4 linked regions of the Homo sapiens genome follow. Changing the gene in region 3 together with the main gene of any one other region gives a genetic interaction. Each region holds a gene or a part of one and is shown on either strand. Other genes may lie near its edges. The genes, in order: LTN1, NUBP1, POLE and TIMELESS.

Region 1 (7,511 bases), on a different chromosome or scaffold from region 3:
TCAGCAGAAAAAAAGTAAATACAGAGAAAGTATGTGCAAATGTAGCAATATGTTAAAAGATGTATGTAACTTTTTTATCTAAAAGAGTATGTGATTTTCCATTGAATTATTCTTCCAACTTCATTGTTTAATTTTTCAAAACAAAAAGTTAGAGATTTTTAAAAAATTAATCACCAATATCAATGGACTTTTAAAAACACACATATACGACCCAGCAATCCCACTCCAAGGTATACAACACAAGTGAAAACATATTTCAACACAAAAGCTCGTACACGAATGTTCACAGCAGCTTTATTTTCAATAGCCAAAAAAAAGGAAACAACCTAAATGCCCATTAATGGATAAACAGATAGATAAACAAAATGTGATAGATCTACAAAATGGAGTATTATTCAGCCACAAAAATAAATGCAATACTTATGATACATGCTTCAATTTGATAATCTTGAAAATAATATACTAAAATAAAAGCCAGACACAAAAGACCAGATATGTGAAATGTCCAGAACAGGCAGATGCATAGAGACAGAACACAGTTTAATGGCTGTCAGGAGCTGCGGGGTTTGAGAGGAAATGGGAAGTGATTGCTATCAATTACAATGGGATGTTGAAAAGGTTCTAAAATTATATAGTGGTTAACAGTTGCACAACTCTGTGAATACAGTCAGCCCTCCACTTCCATGGGTTCCACATCTGAGAATTCAACCAATCGCAGATTGAAAACATTTGAGGGGCAAAAAAAGTGATTTAAAAAAACCAATACAACAATAAAAATACTAAAAACTTTAATACAGTATAGCAACTATTTCAATAGCATTTACACTGTATCAGTGATAACTAATCTAGAGATGATTTTAAGTAGTATACAGGAAGATGTGCATAGGTTAGATGCAGATACTATATGCCATTTTATATAAGGAACTTGAGTATTCGCTGGGGTGGGGGTCATGGGAGGGAGCCTGGAAACAATCCCCAGCAGATATCAAGGGATGACTATATACTAAAAACACCAAACTGTGTATGCTAAGTGGGTAAATTTTATGGTATGTGCAATATCTCAGTAAAGCTTTATAAAACAGACACAAAAACATACACATGTACATATACAACTTTTTCCAGTTCAATCTGATTTGCTAGTTTTTTTGAGAAAAAAGTTAACCCATGATTTAGGAACATTTAAAGTTTTCCGAAGAAAAATTCTGTTTATTTCAGGATTCATCTAATTAGTATTACTTAGTGGGTTATTCTGGTTTATCTGCCCACAGCTCAGTTCAAGTTTCAGACTCAATAATAATAAATGCTGCCGTATAATTTTGCACCCTAACCCAATCCCAGCTTAATGAAAAAGGTGACACATGGCCATTTTCCTAATTTCTGAATATAAAATGAGAACAAAACTCTTATACACAAATGCCTCAATCTGCTGCTATTTTTTAAAGATCAACAATATTTTAAGAAATTGATGTAAAAGCCAAATAAGGAGCTCTTGAAATATATCATCAGCAAATAAAACTAGCTTAAGTCACAAAAATAAGTGACAGGCCTAAAGAGAAAACTAATCTATTTAACAGCTAGATCAATGCTGCTTCTGTGATTTGACTTTTCCCCACAGATATACAAATGCAAAGATGCAAAAATTGATATCTTTGTACCAGGGTATAGGGTATGAGCAACAACATAAATTATAATTTAAAAATTCCAAAAAGTCACATTGGAAATGAATGCCATGAATACTTAATCACACTAAATGATAAACTAAATCTTTTTGTATTGACCTGTCAAAAGAAGGCACATATTTTATTAGGCTAATTCAATCAAAGATTGACAGAGATTTGGATCTTCCTTGTTCTTTTTGAGACAGGGTCTGGCTCTGTCGCCCAGGCTTGAGTGCAGTGGCATGATCTCAGCTCACTGCAACCTCCACTTCCCCGGCTCAAACTATCTTCAAGTGGGGATCCTTCTAACAGAAAAACTAGAGAGATCTTTCCAGTTTCTTCTTGGACAAGGTCTTACTTCCTAAACATGAGACAACAGAGACATCTAGTGGCTGCTAGAATAATTTGGACAAAATATTTCAGATATTTTCACCACTTAGGTAACAGTTTGAATTATTACATAGGTAATGTTTCACAGATCTCTCTCCAAACAGTGATTTTCAAGTAAGGTAAATTTCCAATGATGTATTAAGTTATATCTCCACAACAGAGTGACAAACTGACTCCCTCCGAAAAAAAAACAAAAAACACAAGATCCAATTCTTTTGAAATCATTACTATGATAGTACAAAATTAAATTATATAAATATTATTTCCTGAAATAAAAGAACCTGGTGACTACATTCAGTTAGAAAAAAGTTGATCTGGCCACCTATCAGAGTAATTACTTTTGCTTGGAAGGTAAGGTATAAGGGACAGGAGTAAACTTATTAAGCAGATGGAAGTTAGTTGGATAAAATGAGATTAGGCTGGGCGCAGTGGCTCATGCCTGTAATCCCAGCATTTTGGGAGGCCAAGGTGGGTGGATCGCTTGAGCTCAGGAGTTTGAGACCAGTCTGGGCAACACGGTGAAACCCCATCTCTACAAAAATATAAAAATTAGCCAGGCATGGTGGCTTGCACCTGTAGTCCCAGCTACTTAGTGAGAAGATCGGTTGAGCCTAGGAGGCAGAGGTTGCAGTGAGCCGAGATTGTGCCACTGCATTCCAGCACAGGCAACAGAGTGAGACCCTGTCTCAAATAAACAAAATAAAATAAATTTTAAAAGATGAGATTAAAACATAAGGATTTTCCTTTTATTAAACTGAAAGGAAGGTATTTAGAACAGTATCAGAAGCATATTAGGACAGAACTATCGAAAGTTGTCACATATTTATTTACCTGTGATGATGCAGCTTTGAAGAAAGTTAGTATTAATTTCCAAGTGAGAAGGTATCCCAGAACATAACAGAAGTCTTCACTCAGTGGTTTAATAGTAACTATCTGTCCAACAGGAATACACCCCAAAACATTTTCTAGTAAGTCCTCTTGAATGCTAAGAAGAGACATCAGTGCTGCTGGTGGTGACCTAAGAATCAATGATTAAACACCACAAGTTTTCTTTATAATTCATTCCTTAACAAATTGACAGTACTTGTAAACTTCAAGCATTTTAGAAAAATTTCTCTGTTTTCCAAAAAACGTTTTAAAAATTCCCCTCTATTGAGCCAATTTTAACTCCTAATCTCACATAACAGTAAAATAAAAAAGACATATTATAGCACTTGAAGGAAAGACATTTTTAGAAAACGTCTCTTTCAATTTTCTAAGTGAAAAAAAATCACACACCCAGAGAAGCCAAATGATGAGTCCAACGTCTTTCAGTTAGTAGGGGAAACTGTTAGGGATTCTAAATCCTACCCGGCCTTTTATCATCTTATAAAAGACAAAGTGAAGATTAAGACTTCGAACTTTGTCACTTCATTCTAGTTTCTATTTTATTGCATATTATCTACTTAGTACTATTAAGAAATATCACAATGATACTATTAATCGGATAAACACAGAAAATAATTATGTGCCTGTTTAAAAAATCATGATTGTAATCTTTTTAGGAAAATAAATGTACCATTCAGATTAATTCACAACAATGTAAGTTAATTTTCTTCTTTATTGAACTACTCTACTCATTTATACTTTCAGGTGAACTTATGAGATTCTCAAAAAGTAAAATACTTAACTCTCTTCTCCATGATACTCTAGCCTGGTTCTCTCCTTTCACTTCTGTGATCGTTCTTCCCTTGTGGCTTCCTTCTCCCAGCCCACAAGTACAGGCCTTCTCCAAACTTCTGCTCTTAGGTCTTTTCCTTCAACACCTCCATCTCATGTACCCAGCCTTCTATATTCCATACTGATAGTCACTAGATCTTATAAAATACCAGCTCCAAAATCTCTCCACTTTTCACATTGCCCTCCATGCATTGTTATTTAACTTCTGCAATCAGCTCCACCTCTGCTTGCTTCTTTTTACAATTCATGTTTCACATTAGTGTCAGAATCGGCTGGTGGCGCCCTATCTCCTACCAAGTAATGACCAAATCCCCCCAAAAAAGTCATTTTTAAGGCCATTTATTATAGGCCAGGAAGCATTCTGGCCTACAGCATTCTAGCCTATTTCTCTCTCAGAAATAAGAGAGAGAAATTCCTGCCCTCACAGAACTTACATTCCAGTAAAGAAAGATATTATCAATAAAACTATACATTAAGTGGTAACTACTCAATATTCCCCAAGCACATCCTCACATTCATGACTCAGTGCCTTTGTACATGATGTTCTCTTAACTTATGTTGTCTTTCCTGTCCTGCAGAAATGCTACCTAACCTTAAAGGTCCAGTTTAAATGCCTCTTCCTCAAAAGAAAGTCTTCCCTTCCTGATGTACATTAATTGTGCCCTCATACATGCTATCTTATATAGGCCTAACTGACCTTTAAAAAAAAGTTATCTATCCTTTTTCTTAGCACTTATCATATACTATATTTTCCATAACGCTACAGTATCATCTGTATCAGATAAATTCCTTAAGGAAAAGAAAGTGCTCACTAAACACTGCATATTCCCCTCAGCATTTAATTAATACTCTGCACAAAGTGGATGCTCAATAGATACTTGAACCGATACACTCTTTCCACAGCCACCATATGGCCAAAGATAGTTTTACTGAACAGTAGCAAACGGAAAATGTGATTTAAGAACAATTAAGAGAGTGACACAATCTTTTGGGTGAAATCTATATTTCATTTATATCTTACAGATAACTAAAAAGATCTATCTGTAGAATGAATATAACTCTATAGCTTCTGTGCTGCTTCAGTCCTCTAAAGACATTATAAGTGAGATGGATTATAAGAATTTAATAAAACAAATTATTTAAAAAAACCTTACAAGGCTGGCTCTTCTTCTTCATCTCCGTATGACTTTAGATTATCCTGATCATACTGTGGTAATTCAGGCATCAATCTAGAAATTAGAACATTATTTTTAAATATGTGATATTAAACTGTTTATTAAGTCGTGCTCAAGAGCAGAAAGACCAATACTTATTTTATAATGAGTAAATGTTTTAATGAGTTTTCTTTAAAATAACTACTATAGCCAGGACTATTGAAATATAAATTGTGTATAGAGAACAATAACCTAAAAGATGAGGCAACTTAGGGTCCCTATAAGTGAAGCAGTCAGATCTCCTTCTTTTAAAAATTTTACTTTAAATAATTAAAAGTAAAAACTAAGCATATATTCTATTTTTTTAGACCACTGTAACATTGATTCAATTGGATGAATTCTTACTTGTATAGCATATGATAAACAGCAATTTGCACAGGCCTAGCTCTGAAGAGGAGTAATGGGGCCAATGTATTTAACAAAGTCTGGAGATATTCTGGTAAGTTTGTTTTTTGGTCAGCAACTAATCTTGCAGGAAGTTTGTGACTCAATAGCTGTTCCTTTGAGATATACGTTAATGTTTCACACATGGGTTTCAGCATTGCATTCTGAAAGGATGTTTCAGACACATCTTTGTTTTCTCCTAATGACAAAAAGGAAAGAAACATGCACGTCTCAAAAGAAAGTTAGTATAGCTTAAATGATTCACAAACAATCAAATGTCATTTAAGAAAATGAAATAAAAACTAGACATAAACAATAAAGCAGTCTTAACTAGAAACATGAACTGAATATATATTCCAGTTAATCTCAACTGTTTTAATGACTTTTATCTGATCCAGCAAATGTTCAATAGCAAGGTTCTATTCACATCATCCATTCATGTTATCTGAAGTATTATTATTTTAATTTGCAACAGTCATTGGATACCTTGCCATTTTTCAATTTCTGTCTGTAAAGTAAAGCATAGATGATGCTTCTGAGAAGCCAAGCTTTCTCTTCTGGCTTTTTCTTTTACTATTTAGTATTATTTGATTTAAACATCAAAATTTTTGCTTTTGAATTTTTCAGTAAGTCATTTCCAATGAATCAATCTCACTATTATTCCCTTTTTCACTTGCCTGTAACAGTCACCAAAATAGGTAAAAGCAAACTGTGGATGCCTTGGGAAAAAAATTCTTTCCATTCACTGATTAGATTTACAGGAAGATTGCCAATGGTATCCAGAGTTGTGGAATCAAAGAAAGCACTGAGGTCACAGGCCAAATCACAGCTGACACAGGCAAACAGTTGCACAAGTGGAATAGAATACAATGCCTGATTCTCACTTGTTGTCTGAAAAAACAATAAAAATGAAATAGGTAAACAGACTTCTACCAGAACACTACAAATAAAGCCAATATAAAGAAAAGCCCCACTTTCATTTCTTTGAATTTTAAAACGAAAAGCAGTTGAGGTGTGTAATCTCAGGAGAAACATAAAATTTTACATCAAAATAACTTTTTTCTTCAAAATTAAATACCATGAATAGAATCATTAATAAACAATTTATTCTCAAGTACCCTTTTTAATTTCTAACCCATGGAAGGAAACACTAAGTCAGACACATTAAATACACATTTATAATCTTCTCAGTAGCCCTACAAGTTGTAAGTTATTATTTTAAAATAAGAAAATCGGCCAGGCACAGTGGCTCATGCCTGTAATCCCAACACTTTGGGAGGCTGAGGCAAGTGGATCACATGAGGGCAGGAGTTTGAGACCAGCCTGGCCAAAATGGTGAAACCGCATCTCTACCAAAAATATAAAAATTAGTCGTGCATGCTGGTGGGCATCTGTAATCCTGCTATTTGAGAGGCTGAGGCACAAGAATTGCTTGAACCCAGAAGGCGGAGGTTGCAGTGAGCCAAGATCGCACCATTGCACTCCAGCCTAAGCAACAGAGCGAGATTCTATCTCAAATTTAAAAAAAAAGAAAGAAAGAAAGAAAGAAAACTGAGTCTCAAATAGTTTAAGTTTAAAACTCTAAGTCACATAGCTAATAGCAGGCAAAGCAGAGATTCAGACCAATCCAACCCTGACTGACTTGCTGCCTTGGAGCCCACAAGTAATATACCTCTGGTTGCTTTGGGTCAAAAATTACACTAATTCCCTCTGAATCTGCTACTATTTAATGCATTACTCTCACAATATTCACACAGTATGTTTTAGAAATAATCTAATTATAACCAAAAAAGACCAAAATAATTGTCATTAACAGATAAAACCTGAAAGGGCTGTGCTGCAAATATTACAATAAGCTAATGGAGAAGGCATTTTAATAACAGGAGATTTGGTCACTGAATGATGCTGGTAGTCATTAAAAATCTATCATTTTACTATTCTGTCAAATAGTAGCTGGTAAGAAGAACATCTATAAAGTGTTTTAAATTATACAAAGGAACCAATTACAATCATCACTTAAAGAATGAGATTAGTAAATAGTTCTGATGCAAAAGTATGTACAAAAACCCACAAGAGGTGATGACATATCGGGTTAATTTACCTCCAACCAAGCCAACATGGAGCACATGATGAAGTCCCACTCACT
Region 2 (7,511 bases), on a different chromosome or scaffold from region 3:
TGGCTCACTGCAACCTCCGCCTCCTGGGTTCTCCTGCCTCAGCCTCTCGAGTAGCTGGGATTACAGGTACGTGCCACCATGCTCGGCTAATTTTTTATGTTTTTGGTAGAGACAGGGTTTCACCATGTCGGCGAGGCTGGTCTTGAACTCCTGACCTCAGGTGATCCACCTGCCTCGGCCTCCCAAAGTGCTGGGATTACAGGCGTGAGCTACCACACCCGACCAGGGTTCTACAGCTTTTAAGGAGAGAAAAACTCACAGCAGATATTTATAATTACGTAATGGAAACTGGTATTTCTATTAGCTCTTTTCAACCAGTGAAGAAAGAGGCACTGGATGGTTAAAAATAATATACTGTGAAGTCCAGCAGGCTGAGACTGGCAGGACAGGGAGCAGATAAAGCCAAGAGCCACAACGCTCGTGGAAGAATGTGAGAGACAAAAAAAGGCAGAGTGGCAAACCGTTTTTCTTGGGTCCCCTCCAGATAACAGCATCATCAGGACTGCTGAGCAGGAAGCCCACTGACATCACCCCCAGGTTGTCTTCCACGTACTGCAGAGGGAACAGGGTGAGGGCAAGACACGCTTTACTCAAAACCACACAGTGAGGCCCTCCCCCAGGTCTTCTGTTTGAGCTCTGACTGAAAAAAACATTTTCAGGACAAAACTACCATGTGACCTATGAGCATATTCACTCTTTGCTCCTAAATCATTTTTGGAAAAAAAAAAAAGGGTACCATGTTGGGGGATTTGAAAGAGGCACTGTATGTCCATGGGCTGCAGTGACGGCAATGACAGGGAACTCAGCTAAAATAAGTAAATGTCATCTCCTTAACTCTTTTATTTTTTTATTTTTCATTTTTTTGAGATGAAGTCTGGCTCTGTTGCCCAGGCTGGAGTGCATGGTGCAATCTCAGCTTGCTGCAGCCTCTGCCTCCCGGGTTCAAGCAATTCTCCTGCCTCAGCCTCCCGAGTAGCCAGTGTTACAGGCGCGTGCCACCATGCTCGGCTAATTTTTGTATCTTTAGTAGAGATGGGATTTCGCCATGTTGGCCAGGCTGGTCTCGAACTCCTGGCCTCAAGTGATCTGCCTGGCTTGGCCTCCTAAAGTGCTGGGATCACAGGTGTGAGCCACTGCACCCTGCCTCCTTAACTCTCTTAACCAGAGATTTACAAACTATGGACTTCAGGGCCAAATCTGGCCCACCATCTGTGTTTGTAAATAAACTTTTATTGGAATACTGTCCTGGTTGTTCAGTTACATATTACTACTTTTGTGCTACAACAGCAAGGAATGTAGGCCCACATGCTGAAAATCTTTACCGTCCCACACTTTACAGAAAAAGCCTGCCAATCACTGGTTTTAATCACATCCTCTGTGCCTCGAAAAGTACCCTAATAAATACCTATGGACCAACAAACCACAAACCCATTATGTACACACAACCACACACTACTGTGAAAATAGGGCAAAGAGGTGAAAACTCACCACTGGAGACCAGCCTGAGCCACTCTGGTGAACCTGTGTGAACATGAGCACCGATGTTCATTAGTAGAAATCATGTACCCTGGTCACATTTCATGCACAGACAAATTGTACAAAGTAAGACGATGGTTTTTTAAAATATAATTCATTGTCTTACATGGTACCACGAAATTCCTAAAAGGAGGTGAACAGCTAGGGCGTGGGTAATAAAGATGCAACTCAACTCCCTTTGTGCCCTAAGCTGGGTTATTTGGAAACTCTACTTGGATGTCTAGATAGGGAACCAAAGTTACTCAAGTTCAAATATGATGTTGTGTCTAAGGTATCTTAAAAGAGTCATAAAAATCGGCTGGGGACTGATGAGAAAATGCAGATACCTGTGGAGCAATGAGGTGGCTTTTGTAAAAGCACAGGAGTGAAGGGAATGAGCTCTCACGAAACAGCTGATTCAGAACCTGTCCCCAATCAGCTCCAGCCACAAAGGGGAGCTTCCTGGGGCAACAAGATTCAGACCTCTTCCCCCCAGCAGGTGTCCAGCAGCACACAAAGCGCACACTGAAAGTTTAATTTTCTTGATGAAGCCTTACTTTTCTCAACAGATTTACTGAGACATGATTCATAGACAATATGACTCACCCATTGAATGAGTGGCTTTCTGTACAGTCACAAGCATGCAGCCATCACCACAGTTTTATTTTTTATTTTTATTTTTGAGATGGGGTCTTGCCCTGTCGACCAGGCTGGAGTGCAGTGGCGTGATCCTGACTCACTGCAACCTCCACCTCCCAGGTTCAAGTGATTCTCCTGCCTTAGCCTCCCAGGTAGCTGAGATTATAGGTGCCCGCCACCATGCCCAGCTAATTTTTGTATTTTTTGTAGAGACGGGGTTTCACCATGTTGGCCAGCCTGGTCTCAAACTCCTGACCTCAAGTGATCCACCCGCCTTGGCCTCCCAAAGTGTTGGGATTGCAGGTGTGAGCCACTGTACCCAGTCACCACAATTTTAGAACATTTGCCTGACTCTTAAGAAGAATCCCTATACCCCTCAGCTGTCACCACCCCCCACAGTCTGTCTCACATCCTCCCAGCCTTACAGGACCCCTAATCCACTTTCTCTCACTGTGGACTGACCTATTCTGCACATTTCATGTAAGTGGAATCACACAACATGCGGTCCTCTGTGACTGACTTCGAAGTTCTATTAAAAGACACCCAGCCAGGCACAGTGGCTCACACCTGTAATCCAAACACTGCGGGAGGCTGAGGCGGGAGGATCACCTGAGGTCAGGAGTTCGAGACCAGCCTGGTCAACATGGTGAAACCCCAACTCTACTAAAAATACAAAAAATAGCTGGACGTGGTGGCGTGTGTCTGTAATGCCAGCTATTCAGGAGGCTGAGGCAGGAGAACTGCTTGAGCCCGGGAGGCGGAGGTTGTGGTGAGCCGAGATCGCGACACTGCACTCCAGCCTGGGCAACAAGAGTGAAACTCTGTCTCAATAAAATAAATAAAATAAAATAAAATAAAATAAAATAAAATAAACCCCACAAAACCATTCATTCCTATTTACACTCGTTTGCTAAGTCCATTTGTCTTAAAAGAGGGGTAAACAGGATGATCCAATAGTGCAGGAGAAGAAAATAGGGAAACTTCTATTTTCTTTTATTTTAAAATTTTCTGTTTCATGAAATAATTACGTGTGATGACAGTAGCTTATACCTTCACTGTGGCGTGTGCTACCAAATCCATTGGGGTATGTGACCAAGCCTCACAGGGTGACATCGCTCTCCTTCCCTACTCCCTCGGAAGCAAACCCCAAGGCCTTAGAAGTGCCTGCAAGGCCGGCCCCATCTGCTTCGGGCCACCCTCCAGCCCCTCTGGTCACTCCACTGAGGACACAAGGACACCTTGTGTCAGCGGCCCATGCAGTTGCTCCCTTAGCCCAGAATGCCCTTCCCCCAGCTCTCCCCTCCTGTCATCCTCTGCTCAAATGCTATCCCTCAGTGAGGGCACCTTTGACCACCCCTCAGCCCCTCTGACTCTGCCCTACTGTCCATCCCCTCACTCTGGGTTGGTTTCACATTATCTAGCATCTGCCTTCTCCCACCCAGACAGGGGTCTTCATGGACCTTGTTCACCACTGCATCCCCAAAACAGGATTAATGCATTCCTGGCACTAATTAAAGAAAGAACCAATCTTGAGACTCTCGGGACATCCCAGCACCCCCAGCCCCAGCTTCCATGCACTGCCCTTGGGGGAATCCTCTCTTGGAGAGCTTCTTGCTAGCAAGAAGAGGCCAGCAACTACATAGACTGCTACAGCCCTGCCCCCAGCCCACATCGCTCACCCGCCCTGCAGTCTCAGTTCCCCAGGGGAGACCACAAGGGCAGAAATATTCCCTTGCTTCCAGGGTACAGACCCATAGCAAGCCCTGGTCTAATGTTCCCAGTCAGAGCTAAATTTCCGTGTCTTACTTCTGCATTTCACTGGCTGTTTCCCTTCCCCTCTGAGGAGGCATCGAAACCAATGCTTCTCCAATGGTGTAGACAGACTTCATATACAATCCCGCCCCTCCCCCGCCAAGACTCACAGTTGTTGTTAAAAGTAGACAGATGGACTACTGAGCATGTATGAGCTCCTCATGTCCACATAAACATTTACAGGCCAGGTGCGGTGGCTCACGCCTGTAATCCTAGCACTTTGGGAGGCTGAGGCAGGTGATCACTAGAGGTCAGGAGGTGGAGCCCAGCTTGGCCAACGTAGTGAAACCTGGTCTCTACCAAAAATACAAAAATTAGTTGGGCATGATGGCACACCACTGTAGTCCCAGCTACTCAGGAGGCTGAGCACAAGAATCGCTTGAACCCAGGAGGTGGAGGTTGCAGTGAGCTGAGGTTGCACCACTGCACTCCAGCCCGGGCGACAAGAGTGAGACCTTGTCTCAAAAACAACAAAACAAAACAACAACAAAAAAACATTTATGGGCTCCGCATGCCTCTTTGTTGAGGTTTGACAGTTCAGTGCTACAGAGTTTGCCTTAAGAGAATAATTTCCTGAGTTCTGTAACCGGCTATTACCTGCTCTCCTTCCAATCCCATTATCTTGGGAATCGATGGCCCACATATATCGATGTCTAGAAGAGCAATCTGGGGACAAGAAGAGACCAAAGCGGTTATATAACTGAATGCACACACTCCAGACACACACAACTAGGAGGGGAGCGGGGTTAGAGGAAAAGGACAGGGGAGAAGACAGAAACTGGGTTAAACTTGGAGCCATCAGATTCTCCTGAGGGAGAGTCCTAACGCTGATCTCAAGGTTCATAAACACTGATGCCCCCATTCCCCTACCCCTCAGCCTGGCTGAGCTCCTCAAGGGTGATCTTACAGACCTGGCTGTCAGGTCACTTGGAGGCTCGGGCTCAGACCTTGTTTACTGAGCCCTGGTTGGAGGAGACGGGGAAAGGGACCTAGCGCCTGTTTGGCTTGTGTGACAGAATGGATGGAACAGCCAAGAGACGGCAGTGTTGGAGCCACCCTAAACAGCTCTCTTTTGCTCACCCCTCACCAAGCCTTGGTCTCTGCATCTTAAATTTTTCTCAAACTCATCCTATCTTGTTCAGGAGTCTCAGATACAAGCCAAATCTAGACTATTTAAGCAGAATATGAATGTATTAAAAAATATTGGGGGCTGGGTGCAGTGGCTCACGCCTGTAATCCCAACACTTTGGGAGGCTGAGGCGGCCATGTGCCTAGAAGGTAAGTATCATTATCTCTGGTTTACAGAGGAGGAAACTGAGGTTCAGAGGGGACCAGTTCAATAAGCAGGGAACAGAGCTGGGACATAAACTGAGGTCTTTCGGCCCCAACTGGGGCTCTTTCCAGTACACCACGGGCCTGCTGTGGAGGACCAGAGTGGAGCCTCTAGCTGAACCCTGACCAAGCCCTGTTTTCCTTTGATCCTGAAGGTGAATGATGGTTTAGGCTAAACTTACAGAACAGAAACTTAAAGTAAGATGGAAACCTGGAAAAGCTCTTTAGTTGTGACTCAGGTGCAGCTTCAGGCGACCCCATTCCACCCCAAGCCTTCCCCTCTGATACAGGAGGTCTGAGACGGCCTTCAGGAACCTTCTGAGAACAGGGCTAGTATTCATCTTGAAAGCTGCAATGACTCGGATCCAAAGTGCTGCACCTCCGCGTCACTTTTTAACTTGCCCTGAATTAGTTTCTTGCCACCCTCTTCAATCCTCTCAACAAACCCAGCCTCCTACTTCCTCAGCACCCAGCGCTGTCTCAAACTTGTGCACGGGAAAACGCCATCCACAGACCAGCACTGGCCTCAGGTGCCCTCTATGGAGCCATCCGGGGAGAACAGCAGAGCGACATCATCGGAAAACCTGACTTGCTCTCTCCGGACCTTGATACTTGGGACTGATGTGTCAATGATCCACGGGGAAATGACACTATCACTATGACTGTGATAGAGACTTTCCTCGATACTCTCAGGTTTCTAGTGACTCTGTCTCCATGCCCTTCCTTTAGGGAACAATTTAATCAATTCCCTTTAGAGGAATTTCACTCCCTTGGGGAGTGAATCTTGAGCGAAATGATGTAAGGATATGAGAAGCAGATCCAGCGCACTCTCTCACTCCCGTGGCAGGCCCGAGAGGCTGTTGACAAGCTCCTGCTACCCAGATGGCCAGGACGGCCCTGGGTCCTGTCTGTTCAGACTTCCTGTTGATCTTATTACTACCCCAAAATCTGTCCATTTAATTTTGCTTAGGTTAGGCCAGAAAAGCAAAGCTGAGAGCAATGCGCCTGCGTTCCTCCCAGCAGGACCTCTGGGCCTGTGTTTGCAGCTGATGGGAAGAGGCCGCGTTTGCTGCAGAAGGTGGAGATGCTGCAAGGCTGTCGGGACCCAAAGCGTCTCCTTTACTCAGCACCCCAAACTGCCCCTGATGAGGAGGGTAGGGGAAGAGGGATTTAGTCCTAACTTTTAGTCCTTGCACAAGTTGCTTCTGCTTTCGAAGCCTTGGCTGTCTGGGCTTCTGATCTGTGAGACAACTGCTCCGGGGTCATCAAGGCCCCTCTCAGCTCTGCAGTCCCAGGACCCAGAGGAGGGCCTCGCACACTCAGTCCTGAAACACCTAGTGCTGACCTTGTTATGACAGTTTGCCTTTCAGATCACAAAGATCATAAATGTTTAATTTATGGTGGCTGGGTGTGGTGGCTTACGCCTATAATTTCAGAACTTTGGGAGGTTGAGGCAGGCGGATCACCTGAGGTCAGGAGTTCGAGACTAGCCTGGCAAACATAGTGAAACCCTGTCTCTACTAAAAATACAAAAATTAGCTGGGTGTGGTGGCACACGCCTGTAATCCCAGGTACTCCAGAGGCTGAGGCAGAACTGCTTGAGCCCGGGAGGTGGAGGTTGCAGTGAGCTGAGATCACACCACTGCACTCCAGCCTGGGCAAAAGAATGAGACTCCGTCTCAAAAAAACAAACAAAAAAAGTTTAATTTATGGAAGTTGGTGACTTGTTATTTATTCATTGTTTTTGAGGTAGAGTCTCACTCTGTTGCCCAGGCTGGAGTGCAGTGGCATAATCACGGCTCACTGCAGCCTTGACTTCCCAGGCTCAAGTGATCCTCCTACCTCAGTCTCCTGAGTAGCTGGGACTACAGGTGCTTACCACCACACCTGGCTAACTTTTTTTATGTTTTATGTTTTGTAGAGACAGGGGTCTCACTTTGAAGCCCAGGCTGGGAGTCGGTGACTTTTGCAGTGGAAGACAGTGTATGACTCTTGGCTGTCTCATGGCTCAGGCTTATGCTACAGAGGCTCCTTCTGCCTTCACCACAACTTACACACTCCCTGGGCAGCCTGTGACTCGTCAGGGGTGTTTTCTAATTCTGCTCTCTCTTGATCCAAGGCCCTTTGTGCCAATGAGATGACAGGCGCCTGCCTGCCTCAAGCGCTAACATGGAATGGTCTTGCACAGAGTTAGAGCCAAGCTTCCACCAGAT
Region 3 (8,264 bases):
TCAAAAAAAAAAAAAAAAAATTAAAATAACAATAGAAACTAACTGGTCAAATTGGAGTCAGTTTTCCCTTTCCATGAGCCCAGTCTAGGACGCTTTCAGGGTTTTTGAATCCTGAAGTCTGACTTTAGGTTAAGTTGAGTTACTTGTCCTCAGGTTTGCCTCTCAGCCCAATTAAGACAGTCACCCCTACCCATCCAATTAAAAAGAAACATGATAAAACCACAAATGTGAGCCTGTACTCCTAGCACTGTAATCCCAGCACTTTGGGAGGCCAAGGAAGGTGGATCACTTGAGGTCAGGAGTTCAAGACCAGCCTGGCCAACATGGTGAAACCCCATCTCTACTAAAAATAACAAAAATTAGCTGGGCATGGCGGTGTGTGCCTGTAATCCCAGCTATTTGAGAGGCTGAGGCAGGAGAATCACTTGAACCAGAGAGGCAGAGGTTGCAGTAAGCCTGGGTGACAGAGTGAGACTCTGTCTCCAAAAAAAAAGAAAAAACAAAAAAAACCACGTATGCGTATATATGCCATACAAACTATATGAACCATTCGAGTTTTTTCCCATGATGATTACTACAATGGTTTTTAAAAAATTATATTTCCAAATAAGAGTACTCCAACTACTCGGTTTTGGTGCCCAGCTTGGTTGCACTCAGCGGCTACAAGGTAAACCCACCCCTTGTATGGCACTCACCCGTAAACGGCATATCTCAGAGGCCCACCGACATCCAGACTTCTAGAGTTTTCTTTTTTCCGCTTCTTCTCAATCATCTGGGCCAGGAAGTTCCCAAGTGCTGACAAAATGCCACTGTGGAGAGGGAGGTCATCAGAAAACAGCAGTGACCAGCAGGAGGGTGTCCCTTTCCCATAGGTGAATTAGCAGGGCCGTTCTGAGGCCATGCAGCAGATGGGCGGGGGGTAGGAATTCTTGTTAAAGCGGCTGCAATGTATAGTTCTTGTATCAAAAGGTGGAGACGGTGGACTTAAACACACAGGTAAGGACAAGTGGCTTTCCAGTATCTATGTCAACATCCTGGCTGTGATGTTATACTATAATTTGGCAGTTTGGGAGTTGGGAAGCTGTGTGGTTATGAACGGGCAACAGGACAGCCCTATCATGACGCTGTTCTGCATTTTGACTGTGGTAGTGAACACAAGAATGTACAGATGTGATAAAACTGTACAGAACAGATACAGCTACAAGAAAAATGGAGAAATCCGAATAGGATCTGTGGACTGTGTCCACGCAATGCCCTGGTCGATACTGCACTACGTTTCACAGAATGTAACCAATGGGGGACACTGGGAAGGTGTGCAAGGAATCTCTCCATGTTAGTCTTGTAACTGTTTGTGAATCTACAATTATCACAATAAAAATTTCCATAAAAAGGTGGAACAGGCCCAGTGGCTCCCTCCAGGCCTTGGTTTGTATTTGCCTTCTGAGAAGCTCTCTGGACTATAAAATCCAAAATTCCTAGCACGGACCTAGACACCTTCTCGATCAGATCCCTGGCGATTCCCTTCACATCTCCTGCCTCTTGCTCAGGGTTCACTTTCTCCACACACAGATCTTCCCTCCCTCGGGACTGAGTCCAAGCTGCACCTCTCTCCGCCTTTCTTTAACGCCGGCCTTCCCTTCAAAACCTAACAGAGACCTTTGCCCTGCTGTTCCCTGTGCCAGGAGAGCCTCTGCTCCACTTCTTTACACAGCCTGTTCAATGTCACCTTCTCAAAACACCTTCCCTGGCCGTGTCTCCACCCGCGCCGTGCGGACCCGCGCCCCGCAGACTCGCTCCCTTGGCCCTGTCTCCACACGCTCCATGTGGACCCGCTCCCCTGGCCCTGTCTTCACCCGCACCACGCAGACCCGCTCCCTTGGCCCTGTCTTTACCCGTGCCCCGCAGACCCGCTCCCCTCGCCCTGTCTTCACCCGCGCCCCGCAGACCCGCTCCCTTGGCCCTGTCTTCACCCGCGCCCCGCAGACCCGCTCCCTTGGCCCTGTCTCCACCCGCGCCATGAGGACCCGCTCCCCTGGCCCTGTCTTTACCCGCGCCCCCAAGACCCGCTCCCCTGGCGCTGTCTTCACCCGCGCCCCGCAGACTCGCTCCCTTGGCCCTGTCTCCACACGCTCCATGAGGACCCGCTCCCCTGGCCCTGTCTTCACCCGTGCCCCGCAGACCCGCTCCCCTGGCCCTGTCTTCACCCGCGCCCCCAAGACCCGCTCCCCTCGCCCTGTCTTCACCCGTGCCCCGCAGACCCGCTCCCCTGGCCCTGTCTTCACCCGCGCCCCCAAGACCCGCTCCCCTCGCCCTGTCTTCACCCGTGCCCCGCAGACCCGCTCCCCTGGCCCTGTCTTCACCCGCGCCCCCAAGACCCGCTCCCCTCGCCCTGTCTTCACCCGTGCCCCGCAGACCCGCTCCCCTGGCCCTGTCTTCACCCGCACCACGCAGACCCGCTCCCTTGGCCCTGTCTTTACCCGTGCCCCGCAGACCCGCTCCCCTCGCCCTGTCTTCACCCGCGCCCCGCAGACCCGCTCCCTTGGCCCTGTCTTCACCCGCGCCCCGCAGACCCGCTCCCTTGGCCCTGTCTCCACCCGCGCCATGAGGACCCGCTCCCCTGGCCCTGTCTTTACCCGCGCCCCCAAGACCCGCTCCCCTGGCGCTGTCTTCACCCGCGCCCCGCAGACTCGCTCCCTTGGCCCTGTCTCCACACGCTCCATGAGGACCCGCTCCCCTGGCCCTGTCTTCACCCGTGCCCCGCAGACCCGCTCCCCTGGCCCTGTCTTCACCCGCGCCCCGCAGACCCGCTCCCCTCGCCCTGTCTTCACCCGCGCCCCCAAGACCCGCTCCCCTCGCCCTGTCTTCACCCGCGCCCCGCAGACCCGCTCCCCTCGCCCTGTCTTCACCCGCGCCCCGCAGACCCGCTCCCCTCGCCCTGTCTTCACCCGCGCCTGCGGACCCGCTCCCCTTGCCGTGGCTTCCCCGGGCGCGCGGGGCCCCTGTTGGGTCCTTGGGTGGAACCTCAGCGCCGACCCCCGGGTCTGGGCGGGCCCTCCACGCGCTGGGAGGGCGGGATCCGCAAGGCGCCTCACAATCGCTGACTGCGGACGCGGGTGTCGCCGCGGGAAGTTCAGCGCCGGGTCGGAGGGCGCCCGCTCCGGGGGTTCTGACCCGGGCGCGCCCCCAGCCTGGTCCCGGCCCGGCGCTCCCGTCCAGGCCCCGCGCCGCTGCGGCCGACCTGGGGCCGGGGCGGCGTCCGATTCCCGCGCCCCCGCTCACCTGGTGGCCGCCTTGGTGAGCACCGGGTAGAGCCGCAGGAAGAGCAGGTACTGGGCGAGCGCCCGCCGCGGCAGCGCCCCGAGCCCGGCTTCGGCCCGCAGCCTGGACGCGGCCGGCGCCATCGCCTCCCCAGCGCCGTGCCGCCGGGGGCACCGACCCCACCTCAGGCTGGCCGGGCGCGGAGCCCGAGGCGCCGAGAGCGGAGTGGGGACCGCCTGACATTTCCGGCCCCACCGCGGCCCGCAGCGCCGCCCGGTCCCAACCCCACGGTGCGCCGCGCGCGCCTACCACACACTTTTCCCCGGTCCCTGCCGGCCACCTCCCCCGCCGGGCGCCGGCGCCAATTGGAGCGCCTCGGGGGGCGGGGGAGGGGCGGAGCGCGCCTCTTGATGGACGGCGGCATTTCCGGCTCTCGCGAGTCTGGGTGGGAGCGCGCCAAATTTCTCCCCTGAAGCAGAGGTGGTAGCCAACGGCTCCATGTCTCTGAGGAGCGGCGGGCGGCGGCGCGCGGACCCAGGCGCGGATGGCGAGGCCAGCAGGTGAGGGGCGCCCTCCTGAGGCTCTCGGGCCGGCCCTCCGGAGGGTGCCATGGGGCCGTCCTCGGCTGGCGCCGCCGAGGCGGGAGGGAGGCCCGGTTCCCGCAGCCGCCCGCACTCGCCGCGCCTGACTGGGGTAGGGCGGCGCGCCCCGACCGCCGACGGAGGGGCTCGGGGCGGGCGGAGGCGCTACGGGCGCGGCTTCTTTGCGGGGAAACGAGGCGGGCCGCGCGGCCTTTCCCTGCTCGGCTCTTTCTGAGGTTTTTCGGGCCTCGCCTTCCGCGCAGCTGCGTTTGGGACCTGCCGCGCGGCGGGGGCGATGAGAGCGGCGGGACCCGGGCCAGGCCCTGCGGGGTGGACGCGCGGCTGGGGAGGGTGCGGGGAGGGGCGGGGCCGGGGACCCTGCCTGGGGGCCTAGCGCTGGGGGAGGCCGAGGCGGGCGGATCGCTGGAGCCCAGGATCCTGTTCTAGATCAGCCTGGGCTACAGAGAGAGACCTCGTCTCCTCTGTTTTATTTTTTTGGGCAGGGAGTCCCGCTCTGTCGCCCAGGCTGGAGTGCAGTGGCGCGATCTCGGCTCACTGCAACCTCTGCTTCCCGGGTTCAAGCGATCCCGCTGCCTCAGCCTCCCGAGTAGCTGGAATTACAGGCGCCCGCCACCAGGCCCGGCTAGTTTTTGTATTTTTAGTAGAGACCGGGTTTCACCATGTTGGCCAGGCTGGTCTCGAACTCCTGACCTCAGGTGATCCGCCCGCCTCGGCCTTCCAAAGTGCTGGGATTACAGACGTGAGACTCCGCGCCCGGCCCTTCTCTTGTAAAAACAAGAAAAATTAGACAGGCTGGTGGTGCGCGCCCGAGGTCCCAGCTATTAATACTCCCGAATCCGAGCCGGAGGTTCACCTGAGCCCGGCAGGTCAAGGCTGCTGTGAGCCGGGATCGCGCCACCGCACTCCAGCCTGGGCGACGGAGCCAGACCCAGTCTCAAAAAAAATAGAGCAAGGATAAGACGCGGCTGCTTGGTGGCCAGAGCAAACGGTAAACATGACCGGAGGACTGGCCTGCCATAAGCAGAAAACGGATGAGGCCCGGCGCGGTGGCTCACACCTGTAATCCCAGCACTTTGGGAGGCCGAGGCAGGAGGATCACCTGAGGTCAGGAGTTCGAGACCAGCCTGACCAACATGGAGAAATCCCGTCTCCACTAAAAAAATACAAAATTAGCGGGGCGTGGTGGCGCATGCCTGTAATCCCAGCTACGCAGGAGGCTGAGGCAGGAGAATCACTTGAACGCGGCAGGCGGAGGTTGCGGTGAACCGAGATCGCGCCATTGCACTCCAGGCTGGGCAACAAAGAATGAAACTCTGTCTCAAAAAAAAAAAAATAGAAAAAACGTGTGAGAACGTGAAGCTTTTTACAGACACTTAGCTGAACAAAATTCTTCCCAGAGGAGAAACCAAGTGGTAAGGATCCCTAACTGCTGTTGTGCTCATCGCTGTCTGTCCATATCAGGCAAGCCCTAGAGAGGCAGGTACCCTTAGGGTCTACATGGTGTGTTGGAACTTGGAGCTTAGAGACGGTTACTGACTGCCCTGCTTCAGGACACAGGACTGCACTCACGTGCTCCACTCCACTGCCCTGCCCCAAGCTCAGTGATGGCCTCCAGGCAGGGGGAAGGCTGCTGCTGGGATAAGTACAAGTGATGGCTTTTACCTTACATGCTTTATGTGGGTTACCTCATCTCATCCTTAAAACAGTCCTGGGAGGTGAGTGTGCCCCAGGAGGCAGTGGGTGCTGTTTGCCTGCGTTTCTTCTTGTGTGAAATGGGGACACCAGTGGCCTCCCTCGTAGGGGTTGTCATGAAAACTGAATGAGAGCATATGTGGAGTACTGGGACGGTGTGATACAGTAACCAGTCAATGGTAGCTCTCTGTGAATGAGAGCCTGTGTGGAGTACTGGGACAGTGTGATACAGTAACCAGTCAATGGTAGCTCTCTGTGAATGAGAGCCTGTGTGTAGTACTGGGACGGTGTGATACAGTAACCAGTCAATGGTAGCTCTGTGAATGAAAGCCTGTGTGGAGTACTGGGACGGTGTGATATAGTAACCAGTCAATGGTAGCTCTCTGTGAATGAGAGCCTGTGTGGAGTACTGGGACGGTGTGATATAGTAACCAGTCAATGGTAGCTCTGTGAATGAGAGCCTGTGGAGTACTGGGATTGTGTGATACAGTAACCAGTCAATGGTAGCTCTCTGTGAATGAGAGCCTGTGTGGAGTACTGGGACGGTGTGATACAGTAACCAGTCAATGGTAGCTCTCTGTGAATGAGAGCCTGTGTGGAGTACTGGGACGGTGTGATATAGTAACCAGTCAATGGTAGCTCTCTGTGAATGAGAGCCTGTGTGGAGTACTGGGACGGTGTGATATAGTAACCAGTCAATGGTAGCTCTGTGAATGAGAGCCTGTGTGGAGTACTGGGACGGTGTGATACAGTAACCAGTCAATGGTAGCTCTCTGTGAATGAGAGCCTGTGTGGAGTACTGGGACGGTGTGATACAGTAACCAGTCAATGGTAGCTCTCTGTGAATGAGAGCCTGTGTGGAGTACTGGGACGGTGTGATACAGTAACCAGTCAATGGTAGCTCTCTGTGAATGAGAGCCTGTGTGGAGTACTGGGACGGTGTGATACAGTAACCAGTCAATGGTAGCTCTCTGTGAATGAGAGCCTGTGTGGAGTACTGGGACGGTGTGATATAGTAACCAGTCAATGGTAGCTCTGTGAATGAGAGCCTGTGTGGAGTACTGGGACGGTGTGATATAGTAACCAGTCAATGGTAGCTCTGTGAATGAGAGCCTGTGTGGAGTACTGGGACGGTGTGATACAGTAACCAGTCAATGGTAGCTCTCTGTGAATGAGAGCCTGTGTGGAGTACTGGGACGGTGTGATATAGTAACCAGTCAATGGTAGCTCTGTGAATGAGAGCCTGTGTGGAGTACTGGGACGGTGTGATACAGTAACCAGTCAATGGTAGCTCTCTGTGAATGAGAGCCTGTGTGGAGTACTGGGACGGTGTGATACAGTAACCAGTCAATGGTAGCTCTCTGTGAATGAGAGCCTGTGTGGAGTACTGGGACGGTGTGATACAGTAACCAGTCAGTGGTAGCTCTCTGTGAATGAGAGCCTGTGTGGAGTACTGGGACGGTGTGATACAGTAACCAGTCAATGGTAGCTCTCTGTGAATGAGAGCCTGTGTGGAGTACTGGGACGGTGTGATATAGTAACCAGTCAATGGTAGCTCTCTGTGAATGAGAGCCTGTGTGGAGTACTGGGACGGTGTGATATAGTAACCAGTCGATGGTAGCTCCCTGTGTGACACTTATCCCCATTTTTCAGATTTCTTACTGTCCCTGGATTAAAAGTGAGATACACAGCTCAGAGAAAGCAGTTTTGGGAGGAAATATGGTCCCAGTGAGCAGTTTTCTAGTCTACTTAATCCAACTTACTTGAGGCAAGGATATTTGGAGGACTGGCATAGAGGGCCGTGCGCCCCTGTTAAGAGGTGATGCCTCGTAAATAGCACTTCATTCACTCTTGATTTTGATAAAGATCTGGGACTCAGAACTGAGGCTGTTCTCTAGCAAGATTTGGAATATAGTTTTTCTGTGTTTTTGATTACGGGTGCATTCAACTATTTAAAAGATTAAACCTTTATTATACAGTATGGTGGTGTATCAGTTTCCTATTGCTGCAGTAACACATGATCACTTAGTGACTATATAAATTTATTCTCTTACGGTTTTAGAAGTCAGAAGTCGTAATATGAAAGTGTCTGGTTGGTTATATTTATTGTGATGGTTCCCGGGGGAGAATCTGTTTCCTTGCTGCTTCTTCATCTTCAGAACCAAGGGTTGCATCTCCTCTCCCCCCTACCCTCTCTCTCCCATCCCTTTCTCCTTCCTGACTCTAGCTCTCCTGCCTCACTCTACAAGGATTCTTGTGATTACACTGCGCCCACCCAGCTAAGCAGAATCTCAAGGCCCTTAATTTAGTCAGATCTGCAAAGACCCTTTTGTCTTGTAAGATAACATTCACAGGTTTGGGGGATTAGGATGTGGGTCTTTCATGGGGGGTGTCATCCTGCCTGCCTACCACAAGTGGTTATAATCTTTCATGAGAAGTAAGGATCCTAGTCTTGGAATATGGTCATTCTGCTCTTGAGTTGAAGGTGATCCAAGGAATACCTTCAGACAAAGGAAGGGTCTTCCTTTCTTTTTTTATCTTGTTCTTTTTTTATTTTATTTTTTTTTTAGACGGAGTCTCGCTCTGTCGCCCAGGCTGGAGTGCAGTGGCATGATCCCAGCTCACTGCAAGCTCTGCCTCCTGGATTCACGCCATTCTCCTGCCTCAGCCTCCCGAGTAGCTGGGACTACAGGCGCCCGCCACCACGCCCGG
Region 4 (6,575 bases), about 76 Mb from region 3:
GTGGCTTTCACACATCCCACCCTGTATAGCCAAATCTTCAGGGCCTGGCATCAAGTTTAGGAGTCAGCCTGCTCCAGGGCTTTCCTTAGTGCCGGGCCTACTAGATCCTGGGTAGAGAGGACATATGGAAGACACCAGGCAGGAACTTTGGAAGCCAGGTCTGGCAGAACCAGGGCTCTGCAAATACGAAGCAAGGGACATCAGGGCCTTAGTTTGGGTTCCATATGAAATGGCAGCCAGAGTGTGTGCAACATGTAGCAGTAAATGATCAGCTGAAGTGGGAGTTAGAAAACAGACCGTTTCACTCACCCATTACCTCCAGGCTTGTGTTCATTTTAGGTTAAAGCCCAGTTACATAGGAAATGGTACCGCACTGATCTTATTTGACTTCTCCTATTCCCTGGTCACCAGGGCCTTCCTCTGCTTCACTTTCTACTTAAATATTTGAGAGCACCAAATTACCAGAGGGTAGTCAGTGAGAGGTGGGCTTTCCCAGGTAGGTTATTCCAGTCCCAGTTCTCTGTCTCATGAGAGGGGACAGTTGCTTGTCTCTAAGGTCAGTAAGGGCACAATTTTGGCAAACATTTGCCTATTTGCCCTGTGGTGTTCTGCTCAGATCTCCCTTCAAGAGAACACAGAGTGAACATTCTATTTGGCCGACAGCTTCCACTCTTTAGAATGTTCTGCAGTGATCACAGCAGCATCCCTCTCTACAGGCTGCTCTGAGACAATGACAGGTGGACAGTGCTAGAGCCCAGCCAAGTCGGCCAGACATGGGACTCCTCAGTCATGTAATCTTCATTCTGGGGCTCTGTATCAACTTGGCCAAGATTTTCTGAGTAGCACTGTAATTTTTCTCTTTCTCCCTTTCATACATGTGTGACTGTCATCGTGATCTATAGGTTCTCCCAATCTATACCTGAATTGATATGTACTGACTAATCAGAGCTTGTTTAGGTGTCAGAAATGCCGCAAAAGCAGTATCTACCTCTTGCTCCCACATTCCCAGCTTAATCCAAGAGACCCAGAATAAGGAGAAATCAGACGGCTGTGATTCAAATATGTAAGAAATAGCTTTTTACTCCTCTTCTCATTTAAAAATTTCCAAAGGGTAAATAAACGGAAAAGGACAAAAATACCTCTTGTGCCTAATAAATAGTAAATTTTCTTTTTTTTTTTTCTTTTTTTGAGACGGAGTCTCGCTCTGTCACCCAGGCTGGAGTGCAGTGGTGCGATCTCAGCTCACTGCAACCTCTGCCTCTTGGGTTCACGCCATTCTCCTGCCTCAGTCTCCTGAGTAGCTGGGCTACAGGTGCCCGCCACCATGCCTGGCTATTTTTTATATTTTTAGTAGAGATGGGGTTTCACCGTGTTAGCCAGTGTCTCGATCTCCTGACCTTGTCATTCTCCCATCTCGGCCTCCCAAAGTGCTGGGATTACAGGTGTGAGCCACCATGCCCGGCCAATACATAGTAAATTTTCTATACTGATAAACACTGCTAGAAGAAACTGGAGCTGGAAATTTCAAAGAGGGATGGAAAGTCAGGGTCCAGTTCTGGACATTTCTTAGAAAGGCAGCCACGGCCGGATGCGGTGGCTCATGCCTGTAATCACGCCACCGGCTCATGCGGTGGCTCAAGCACTTTGGGAGGCTGAGGTGGGAGGATCATTTGAGGTCAGGAGTTCCAGACCAGCCTGGTCAACATGATGAACCCCCATCTTTACTAAAAATACAAAAATTAGCCAGGTGTGGTGGTGCATGCTTGTAATCCCAGCTACTCAGGAGGCTGAGGCAGGAGAATTGTTTGAACCCAGGAGCCAGAGGTTGCAGTGAACTGATACTGCGCCACTGCACTCCAGCCCGGGTGACAGAGTGAGATTCCATCACAAAAAAGAAAAAAAAAAAAAAAAAAGGCAGCTGCTAGGCCGAGCACGGTGGCTCACGCTTGTAATCCCAGCACTTTGGGAGGCCAAGGCAGGCGGATCACCTTCGGTCAGGAGTTCAAGACCAGCCTGGCCAACGTGGTGAAATCCTGTCTCTACTAAAAATACAAAAAATTTGCGGGGCGTGGTGGCTCGTACCTGTAATTTCAGCTACTTGGGAAGCCGAGGCAAGAGAATCACTTGAACCTGGCAGGCAGAGGCTGCAGCGAGCCGAGATCATGCTGCCACACTCCAGCCTGGGTGACAGAGCGAGACTTCGTCTCCAAAAAAAAAAAAAAAAAAAAAGGCAGATACTGGGGACAGCAGGACACAGCAAAGGAGCAGCACAGCCCGGATCATGGAGGGAAAACAGAGCAGCCCTGCTGGAAGGAAGCAGTGCTCAGGTTGCGAAGTGAAGAAAAGCTCAGGATGAAGAGACACCAAGACTGGCCAGAGCTAGAAAGTGTCTAGCCCTTGGAAACTTCAATTACCATGGAAATAGCTTCACTCCCACTTTTAGAGGCTATGGGAGATCCTCATCTTTTCAGGAAAAAATAAAAATGAAAAGTCAAAGCAACAGGGCAATCCAAATCCATCCTTTACTTAGAAGCCTTCCTGAGCTGAATGGCTATTTTCTCAATCTCACCTTTGCCCTACCTCGGCTGGAAGCACAGGAAGCAAGAAAGCTGACGTTTCCAAGAATGGGTAAGAACATAATATTTGCAGTATTTATCCATCCTTTTCATGCCTAGATTTTGTCCTTTTCTATGCCCCATGCCAACAAGCTGGCTTCTCTTCCTTTATGGCTCCTCCTTCTTCCTGCCGCATACTCTTGTCACCCTAAGAATTTACCCTAGACAAAAGGATCTAGAGGCAAAAATGCTTTTCTGTGTCTTCTGTAGGGAAAGCGGAAGAAAAGGGAAGGTTGTTGGTCTTTTTTTTTTTTCTTTTTTTTTGAGACAGAGTCTTGCTCTGTCGCCCAGGCATATGCACTGGCGTGACCTTAGCTCACTGCAACCTCTGCCTCCTGGGTTCAGGCAATTCTCCTGCCTCAGCCACCCGAGTGGCTGGGATTACAGGCGCATGCCACCATGGCCGGCTAATTTTTGTATTTTTAGTGGAGATGGGATTTCGCCATATTGTCCAGGCCGGTCTCAAACTCCTGACCTCAGGTGATCCGCCCGCCTCAGCCTCCCAAAGTGCTAGGACAACAGGTTTGAGCCACTGTGCCGGTCTGTTGGTCTCTTTTTACCCTAAAATTGTTAAGTTCTTCTTTCAAGAGCACAGCAGGGGAAGGGCTGGGGAACTTAGACATATCGCCAAGTCAGACTGAGATGAGAACTTCTAATCTTACATGTTTAATACCAAACACAAAGCAAACACATTCATCATCTAGAGTACTATATTCCAACCCTATCTCAAATGCAGGAATGGGCCTCTATCTGGTATCTAGAGGATGATCATAGGAAACAAAATGAGGACAGAGGCATCTGGTATCTTCTAAAAGTGGTACAAAACTCCCGCCTGTCATGTCATAAAGCTCCCCATCTGGTGCTGCGACCCACCTCCAAGAGAAAGCCAAAGGAACAGACCAATAAAAGGGGTCCGGGGTGCTTTCTCTATTTCACTCACTCCTCTTATTTGCTAAGGAGCTCCAATAACCAAAAGAAATGGTTCCTAGAAGAAGAGAACTAAATCTCCAGAGAGCTGCTGGGGCATACCGATAAAAACTGGGAGAAACAAAGACTGACAGCAGAGAAGTCCAATACTGCTGCTGAAGTTTCTCAGCCTAAATCCGTGAAAGAGCCTGGGATTCTACTGCTCTGTCCAGTAAGAGGAGCTTCTGGGTCCTGTATGACCCTTCCAACTCTGACTTGAATGCACCATCTAAAAACGTGTCTATCTCTACCCCTAGGCTTCTTAGCTCTTCAGTCATCCTCATCATCCTCAATCTGGTATCGTTTCTTCTTTTGGATTCCTGGAGCTCCCAACTCTGGTGCTGTGGGAACGATGGGGGTGAGAGAGAGAGAGAATATCTAAATATGTTAAGGGGTAAGGACGTGGTAGAGTTTGTCTTCAGGATTAGAGAAGAAAAAGAAGGTCCCATCAAATTCCCTACCTCTGTTCCTGCCCTCATCTTCTTCCTGTTCCTCGTCGCTGTCCAGCAATTGTCGTTTCTTGGGTGCTGCCTTCAGCGGCTCTTTACCAACAGCGTCTTCCTCTGCAATGACCATAAATGACACAAAATTAGGAACTCGGTCCTCATATTCTCAGAACACCTTTCCTGCCCTCTAGACCAACATGGCTGACACGTTAATACTCAGAAGATGGCTGTCGCACTATTACCCTCTGGGGATGCCAGGCCCGCTTTCTTCTTGTGGGCTAGCAAGAGGGCCCTCAGGGCTTGTGCTCGGTGCTCTTTACAGTGCTCCTCATCAGAGCCTTGCTCTCCAGGGACTTTAGGCTGCAGCTCTGGCTGCAGCTTCTGTTCCTCCTCTGGTTGACTCAAAGAAGCTGCTGCCCTCCGGAGCTGGGTAGGACTCAGCTTGGCTGGAATTCGCCAGAAGGTTTCCTACAGGGGCCAAAAAGTTGAAAAGGGAAAGGACCAGCTTTTTGTTTCCCAGAGTATGATATTCATTGAATATATATGACCCAATATTGGTGAAGATCCACAAGGGTTGTGAACTCTATTTATTATAATACTTACTATCTAATATATACCCAGTGCCTAGCACAGTGCCTGCTACATTAGGAGGTTCCCAGTTATAGGTTTTTTTGGTTGTTCTTTTTTTTTTTTTTTTTTTAAATGAGAAGGGGTCTGCCTCTGTCACTCAGGCTGAAGTGCAGTGGCACAATCATGGTCCACTGTAGTCTCGATCTCTTGGGATCAAGCTATCCTCCTGCCTCAGCCTCTCAAGTAGCCAGGACCACAGGGGTGCATGCCACCATGATGCCCAACTACTTAAAATTTTTTGTAGAGACAGGGTCTTGCTGTGTTGCCCAGGCCAGTCTCAAACGATCCTCCCACCTCAGCCTCCCAAAGTGCTGGGATTACAGGCATGAGCCACTACACCTGGCTATAGTTGTCAATTGAATAAATAAATAAATAAATAAATCCTGGGGATGTAAAGGTGAATCAGGTATGATCCTTGCTATCAAATAACTCACAATCCAATGGGAAAAAGAACAAATGTACTGTAGTATCACAGGATTTTTTTTTTTTTCTTTTTGAGGCAGAGTCTCACTCTGTTGCCCAGGCTAGAGTGCCGTGGCAAAGCAATAAAGGCTCACCCTCCTGGGTTCAAGCAATTCTCCTGCCTCAGCCTCCCAAGTAGGTGGGACTACAGGTGCCTACCACCACACCGGGCTAATTTTTGTATTTTTAGTAGAGACAGGGTTTTGCCATGTTGGCCAGGCTGGTCTTGAACTCCTGACCTCAGGTGATCCGCCTGCCTCAGCCTCCCAAAGTGCTGGGGTTACAGGCGTGAGCCACCATACCCAGCAGATTCCACAGGATTAAGGCTGCATCAGGGGCATGAACAAATCACAGCTGCAAAAGTGATTATTTTTACTTCAGGGGTTGAAAGAATGACAAGGACTGCTTCTCTGACAAGGTGACAATTGAGCAGACTCTTGAAGACTGGGTAGAGGTCCATCAGTAAGACAGATGGAGTGTGTGTGTGTGTGTGTGTGTGTGTGTCACCCTGTGTGCACGGTTGCAGCCTTCCAATAGAGGGACTGGCATGATTAACCATTTGGAGGCATGAAAAAGCCTACCAGGGTGACTATGATGTAAAGTCGGTGTGTGAGTGGTGTGGCTGTGAGGCTGCAAAGGTTGGCCAAGGATGGGGATGCCATTTGGAGTTTGTGGATTCTGTCCTGCAAGCAGTAAGGAACCATCAATGGCTCTGGACAGAGGACTTGACCCTCCATATCCACAAGTTCTGAGTCTGTGGATTCAAACCACTGTAGATCGACAATATTAAAAAAAAATAACAATACAACATTAAACAATAATACACAGCCTGGGCAACATGGCATAACCCCATCTCTACAAAAAATACAAAAAATTAGCTGGGAGTGGTAATATAGGCCTGTAGTCCCAGCTACTCAGGAGGCTGAGGTGGGAGGATCACCTGAGTCTGGGAGGTTGAGGCGACAGTGAGCTGAGACTGAGCCACTGCACTCCAGCCTGGGTGATGGAGTGAGACTCTGTCTCAAAAAAAAAAAAAAAAAAAAAAAATATATATATATATATATATGTGTGTGTGTGTGTGTGTGTGTATATATATATATATAAATAAAATGTATATATATATATTTACAATACAGTATAACAATTATTTACCTAACATTTACATTGTATAGGTATTATATGTAATCTAGAAATGACGAAGTATACAGGTTGTACCTAGGTTATTTACAAATACTACAAAAAGGGACTTCAGCATCTATAGATTTTGGTATCTGTGGGCAGGGGGGTCCTGGAACCAATCCCCTCTCAGACACTAAGGGACAACTGTAATCAAGACTATATTTTAAAAAGATAAATCTGGAGGCAGTCTGGAAGATGGATCTAGGGGAAGGGGAGATTAGAGAGAGGAAAAGAAGACTAGCAGAATGGCTGCTGCAGGAATCTTGGTCAGAGATGA

Evidence for each region.
Region 1: changes in POLE (region 3) and LTN1 together harm fitness more than expected from each alone (negative genetic interaction), as found in Homo sapiens cells (one large-scale study listed by BioGRID).
Region 2: changes in POLE (region 3) and NUBP1 together harm fitness more than expected from each alone (negative genetic interaction), as found in Homo sapiens cells (one large-scale study listed by BioGRID).
Region 4: changes in POLE (region 3) and TIMELESS together harm fitness more than expected from each alone (negative genetic interaction), as found in Homo sapiens cells (one large-scale study listed by BioGRID).

Annotation. Positions count from the first base shown.
Region 1 is NC_000021.9:28,938,341-28,945,851, forward strand, and holds part of LTN1 (E3 ubiquitin-protein ligase listerin), read right to left. Parts: coding exon 7,467-7,511; intron 6,257-7,466; coding exon 6,043-6,256; intron 5,565-6,042; coding exon 5,327-5,564; intron 4,997-5,326; coding exon 4,922-4,996; intron 3,067-4,921; coding exon 2,880-3,066; intron 1-2,879.
Region 2 is NC_000016.10:10,749,731-10,757,241, reverse strand, and holds part of NUBP1 (cytosolic Fe-S cluster assembly factor NUBP1), read right to left. Parts: intron 4,633-7,511; coding exon 4,564-4,632; intron 1,522-4,563; coding exon 1,489-1,521; intron 553-1,488; coding exon 462-552; intron 1-461. UniProt on the Homo sapiens protein: Component of the cytosolic iron-sulfur (Fe/S) protein assembly (CIA) machinery. Required for maturation of extramitochondrial Fe-S proteins.
Region 3 is NC_000012.12:132,682,808-132,691,071, reverse strand, and holds the start of POLE (DNA polymerase epsilon catalytic subunit A), read left to right. Parts: upstream 1-3,729; 5' UTR 3,730-3,756; coding exon 3,757-3,818; intron 3,819-8,264. Other genes in the region: PXMP2 (peroxisomal membrane protein 2), read right to left, coding at 696-809, 3,280-3,401. UniProt on the Homo sapiens protein: Catalytic component of the DNA polymerase epsilon complex. Participates in chromosomal DNA replication.
Region 4 is NC_000012.12:56,413,865-56,420,439, forward strand, and holds the end of TIMELESS (protein timeless homolog), read right to left. Parts: intron 4,496-6,575; coding exon 4,270-4,495; intron 4,145-4,269; coding exon 4,043-4,144; intron 3,923-4,042; coding exon 3,852-3,922; 3' UTR 2,499-3,851; downstream 1-2,498. UniProt on the Homo sapiens protein: Plays an important role in the control of DNA replication, maintenance of replication fork stability, maintenance of genome stability throughout normal DNA replication, DNA repair and in the regulation of the circadian clock.